2 separate regions of the Homo sapiens genome follow, and region 2 is linked to region 1. A link means that fine-mapping ties the variant in region 1 to the plasma level of a protein whose gene starts in the linked region. Region 1 holds a variant in brackets. A gene starts in the other region. All regions are shown on their forward strands.

Evidence for each region. A credible set is the group of variants that fine-mapping cannot tell apart. PIP is the chance, under the fine-mapping model, that this variant and not a neighbour inherited with it causes the effect. The UK Biobank Pharma Proteomics Project read protein levels with antibody pairs (Olink). The fine-mapping took linkage between variants from a reference panel, not from the people measured, so its PIPs are less certain.
Region 2: it holds the start of FGFR4, and the variant in region 1 is the best candidate, but not a certain one, in a credible set for the plasma level of the FGFR4 protein (UK Biobank, PIP 0.51).

Annotation. Positions count from the first base shown.
Region 1 is chr1:30,888,021-30,890,925 of GRCh38, forward strand. The region is part of intron 1 of SDC3 (syndecan 3); the gene reads right to left. Among named protein-coding and RNA genes, the nearest start is that of SDC3, 19 kb to the right of the region's middle. RefSeq lists enhancers at 449-508, 689-748, 2,840-2,905. The variant T/C (reference allele first, on the strand shown) is at 1,357.
Region 2 is chr5:177,085,353-177,088,257 of GRCh38, forward strand. It overlaps FGFR4 (fibroblast growth factor receptor 4), which reads left to right and starts at 1,563. Exons shown (of 18, transcript NM_213647.3): 1 at 1,563-1,725. RefSeq lists silencers at 1,174-1,223, 1,474-1,933, a promoter at 1,444-1,663 and an enhancer at 1,629-2,079.

The DNA.
Region 1 (2,905 bases):
ATTATATGCAAATATGCAGATCAGTGGGCTCCCAGTGGAGCATACATTCTGGCCATTTCTCAACCAGGACTGGAAGAAAGCAGCCTTCACTGAGCACACACTAAGCACTGGACTCTACCTTCTCAGGAGCCAGTGAAATGGGCCTCCTTACTCCACAGAGGCAGAAAGCCCAGGCGACTTGCTAGAGGTCAGTGAGCTCAGCCGGAGAGTCAGGATGGGATTCAGGACTGGAGCAGGGACAGGGAGAGCAGGCAGGGTGGGACGTGGCAGTGGGAAGGGGCTGGAGGAGCACATGGAGGCCCCTAAGAGCAGAAGGATCCTCAGCCTGACCTTGGAATCACTTGAAGCCAGGTGAGGGGGCTCCAGGGACCTCGCCAGCCCTAGAGCTCTGCTGGGCTGACCCCAGCCTCCTCCAGGGAACTGAAGAGAACCTGCTGGAGTCAGCCTGAGCAGGCCCAGACCTTCCAGCTGTCCCGGGAGCCTGCACAGCTCTGACGGCTCCCCAAAGCCCTCCCCACACACATGCTGAGCATACACCCTGGGCACACACAGCACACACACACACATAACTGAAACGGCCCTGTCTGTAAGAATGTGTGTGTGTGTCCAGGCCTCTCCTCCTGAGGAGGCGGGCTGTGGTTCCCCGCACCCTCCTGTTTGCTGGGTTATTTATAACCAGCCCAAACTCACACACAGTGGAGATGCCACTCCCCGCCCCCAGCCTGGAGCAGTCCCACTGGCTTCTCGGCTGCTCCTCTTCTAGGGACAGAACAAGCCAGACTCAGATGATCTGAGCCACAGCAGCCTTGGAAGTCACCACCACCATCACCCAGATGGGAAACTGAGGCACAGAGCAAGGCATCAGACAAAAAGGCTGGAAGAAGGGTTGGCAGGGCCCTCAAAAGCCAGCCTAGGGCCACACTTGCCCCAGGACTGTCTCCAACCCAAGATGAGGCTCTGTGGGACACAGTGGGGTGAGAAAGGGAGGGAAGGAGGGAGCAGACATGTCCAAGCCCTCACCCTCCCCTCCAGAGGCCTGGGAGACACAGCAGGGACTCTGATGCTCGACTATGTGGCTCCAAATCCCAGGACAGAACTTCACCAGCTACGCGACTCTGGGCAAGTCAGTCTACCTCTCTGAGCCTCAGTTTCTTCACCTACTAAATGGGTATAGTAATAGGACTGACCTCAGGGGTTGGGAGGATTAAATAAGATGATCCAAACAAGGCTCTCAGCCCACAGTCTGACTACTTCTCAGCCTAGTGACCCAGAACAAGCTGCTTGGCTTGAGCCTCAGTTCCACCATCTGCAAATGGAACAATGATATGGCCCAGAGGGTCATAAGGACTGAAGCAC[T/C]GGTTCCCACACACAGTACGTGGTCAGCACGTACAAATTCCATCCTCTTTTCCTCCATTCCCGGGGGCCCCATGGTTGCTGACCACCCCCAGATCCTCTCCTTGATGCTCCCTGTCTCCCGTCTCTGAGCATCTACTATGTGCTGAGCTTGGTGGGGGTTGTTCTAGATATTATGCCATGGAATCTTCTAAACAACTCTTCAAGGGATAAATTCCCTTCCCAGCTCTGCAGTGGGCCTTCTGCCTTGTTGAATATAGATGTTCTATAAATACTTGAGGGATGAATGGATGCAAGAATGAATGTGATCAAAAAGTCAGATAATCACAAGCGTTGGCGAGGACGTGGGGAAATCGGAACCCTCACACACCACTGGTGGGAATGTAAAACAGCACAGCCGCTTTAGGAAAGAGGCTGGCAGTCTCTCAAAATGTTAAATGGAGTTTCCATATGACTCAGTAATTCTACTCCTAGGGTATATATTCAAGAAAAATGAAAATATATATGTCCACACACCAAAAAAGGTAGCATTATTCATAATAGCCAAAAGATTGAAACCACCCAAATATCCATCAGCTGATGAATGAATAAATAAAATGTGGTATGTTCATACAATGGAATATTATTTGGCAAAAGAAAAAAAAACTAATACTGAGGCTGGGCATGGTGGCTCACACCTGTAATCCCAACACTTTGGGAGGCCGAGGTGGGAGGGTCACCTGAGGTCAGGAGTTCGAGACCAGCCTGGGCAACATGGTAAAACCCCATCTCTACTAAAAATACAAAATTAGCAAGGTGTGGTGGCACGTGCCTGTAGTCCCAGCTATTTGGGAGGCTGAGGCAGAATTGCTTGAACCTGGGAGGCAGAGGTTGCAGGGAGCCGAGATCATGCCATTGCACCCCAGCCTGGGCAACAAGAGCAAAACTCAGTCTCAAAAATAAACAAATGAACTAATACTGATACTACAGTGTGGATGAACCTTGAAACCATTATGTTAAGTGAAAGAAATTGGCCACAAAAGACCACATATTATATTATTCCATTTATATGAAATGTCTGGGATAGGCAAATCCATACAGACAGAAAATAGATTAGTGACAGCCTATGCCTGCAGGGATTGTGGAGAAACAAGGAGCAACTGTTAATGGGTACAGCGTTTCTTTCTGGGGTGATAAAAACGTTCTAAATTTAGTGATGGCTTTACAACTATGTAAATATACTAAAAACCACTGAATTAAATACTTTAGATGGGCAAGATGTATATGAGTTATATATCAATAAAGCTGTTGTTTCAAAAATAACAATGAATATGAGACTGAGGCTCAGAGAGGACAAGAAACTTGCCCAGGGTCACACAGCAGAGCCTGGACTCAAGTTCAGAGAAGCCCAGCATTCCTTATCCTGACAACACGCTTGTCTTGGCCCTGCTCACCTCCTCTCCCATTTGAACATCTTCTTACCAAGCCTCAGGTGAAGCCTCCACAGCCCCCGCCCCCAGACAGGCAAACGTTTAGTCCGCAGACCACAAGTGGGAGGCCCAGCTCAGCAACT
Region 2 (2,905 bases), not on the chromosome of region 1:
GCTCCATAGCCTGTTGCCCAGGCTACAGTGCAGTGGAGCGATCACGGCTCACTGCTGCCTCGACTTCCTGGGCTCAAGCAATCCTCTGGCCTCAGCCTCCCAAGTAGCTGGGACCACAGGTGCACCCAGCCCATTTCCCTTCCTCTCAAGGTGCCTTAAGAGAAGGAGAAGGCTTGAGATTCAGGTGAGGGATGGGCAGAGATCAGAGGCTGCCTGGCCTCCTGGTTTGGCCACAGTCTAGATGCTCAGGAGAGAAGTGCTTACAGGTGAGGCAAACATGAGCCAGGTGGGCACGGAGCTATCTGGGAGCACCTACTGTATGCCAGACACTTGAACTCTAATGGTGAGGTCTGAGGACACAGTTCCTCTACTGAAAAATAGAGACAGGGCAACTATGTTGCCAGGGCTGGCCTCACACTCCTGAATTCAAGCTGTCCTCCTACCTCAGTCTCCTAGTAACTAGAACTACAGGCACCCGTCATTGTGCCCGGCCATTCCACAGCTATTTACATAATTAACTGTTCAGTTACAATTCTGGCAAGCGTGCTGAAGAAATAACAGGTCCTAAATAATTACAGCTAGTATTACAAAGCAAGCGCTGCATGCCAGGCTTACACATACTGCTAACATGTCTACTTTTTGCAACAACCTCTTGTGGGTGAGACTATCATTTGCCTGTTTTACTGAAAGGACAGTGAAGACTGAGGCCTTGTGTGATGGTGCTGAGAGCTGGGCCTATGACGTCCAGCCCTGTAGTCTGTGCTCTGAACCACTTCACCCTGTTTCTTTCTCCATCCTCACAGTAGAGACGTCATCTAAGAGGAGCTTGCAAGTCCAGAGGGCTTCCTGAAGGAAGTGAGCTGAGAATAATATGAAATTAACCAGACCAAGGGCCATTCCAGGAAGAGAGAATGGTACGTGAAACTGCCCAGGAGTAGCAGGGTGGGAGCCAGGAGGCGTGGGTCATGGCAATCTATGTATAAAGAGCTATGGGAATCTATAGGAAAATTTAAGGGAGTGGCTGACACAGTCAGATTTGTGTTGTAAGTATCACTCCGCAGGTTGCGCAGGGAACAAATGAGGGAGCAGAAGGAAGGGGTTCTCCTATCCGCTGCACGGCACTGCGCAGAAGACAGGGGAGCCAGGCATTCCCTGAAGGGTGAAAAGCAAGGAGTAGAGCTGGGTAGTAGACTAGAATTTAGGAGCCTGGCCTGGGGCCTGGGTGGGGCGAAAGAGGCGGAGCCTGAATGGGGTGTGTATAGGGGGGTTGCGTGTAGGGGTGTGTGTATAGGCTGGGGCGGGGTCCCGGGAGTGGGCTGACTGGGTCGGGGGCGGGGCTCTCCAGGTGGGCGGGGATCTTGGCCACCCCTGGCCACACCTCTCTCCGGCTCGAGCTGGTCTAGGCGGGGCGGGCCCGAGGGGGTGTGGCAGGAGGTGGGCGGGCCCGGGTGGGGGGGGGGGGGGCGTGGAAGGAGGGGCGGGCCCGAGCAGGAGGGGGCGGGCCCGAGGGGCGGGGTGGGACAGGAGGTGGGCCGCTCGCGGCCACGCCGCCGTCGCGGGTACATTCCTCGCTCCCGGCCGAGGAGCGCTCGGGCTGTCTGCGGACCCTGCCGCGTGCAGGGGTCGCGGCCGGCTGGAGCTGGGAGTGAGGCGGCGGAGGAGCCAGGTGAGGAGGAGCCAGGTGAGCAGGACCCTGTGCTGGGCGCGGAGTCACGCAGGCTCGAGGTGAGCCGGAACCCTTGTGGGCCCGGGCTGCGCTCCCAGCCGCCAGGGGGCGAGAGGCGGCGGGGCTACGGGGACTGCCCCTCCCGGCGCAGGGGACCTGGGCGTCCGCCGGGCGGCAGGGGGTGGAGGGGGCGGTAAATCAGTAACCCGCAGTGCACACAGGGCCTTTTGTCCCGCTCCGTCCAAAGAGCACCCCGGCCGCGGAGCTGGTTACTCATTGCCCACCGAGGCGGGGGCAGGCTGGCCCTGTGCAGCTACCCTCGGGACCCATTGATTCGCACCTCCCCCCAGGCTGGCCCGGCAAGGGTGGGGGAGGACAAGCGCGCTTGTCCCTGCGGCTGTCTTCGCGCCGGCGGCAGAGATGAGGGACCTGAGGCCCCGAAAAGTTCAGTCACTTAGTGCCCGGGGGCCTCCAGCGCGAGTGCGGGAGGCTGAAGGAGAACCCAGGACTGTCTGATGCCTAAGGCAGGCCCTCCATTCCCACGTGGGGGGTGGTCGGTCAGCGGTCAGCAGCCATGGGTGACTCGACTAAGGACTCTGATATCAGGGCAGCCTGGGGTAGGAATAAACTCCCCGGGCCTCCCCACCCACTCCCAGCCCAAGCTGTGTACCCAAAGAGCTGCCCTCCCTGCCAAGCCGAGCTTGGTAGGGAGTTTTACCAAGGAGGATCCGACTGGATTCGAGAGTTGAGGTGGGCCAGAGACAGCAGTATCTGAGTCAGGTAGAGAAGAGCAATGAGGGGCACAGAGGGATGGGCAAGAGAGCACATGTGCCCAGTTTTGAAAGCCAATGGCTTCAGCGCTCCTGAAGGGGCAGACGGTGTGACCAAAGAGATAGGCAGCGGCAGAGAGGGAGCCCTAGGATGTTGAGCTGGATCCTGCTGGGCACAGGTAGCCATTAAGGGCTTGCAAGCTGGGGGGCATGACATGGCAGACTTGCAGGTTTTTTTGTTTGTTTTTTTATTTTATTTTATTTTTTTATTTTGTTTTTTTTGAGACGGAGTCTCACTCTGTCGCCCAGGCTGGAGTGCAGTGGCGCGATCTCGGCTCACTGCAAGCTCCGCCTCCCGGGTTCGCGCCATTCTCCTGCCTCAGCCTCCCGAGTAGCTGGGACTACAGGCGCCCGCCACCGCGCCCGGCTAATTTTTTGTATTTTTAGTAGAGACGGGGTTTCACCGTGT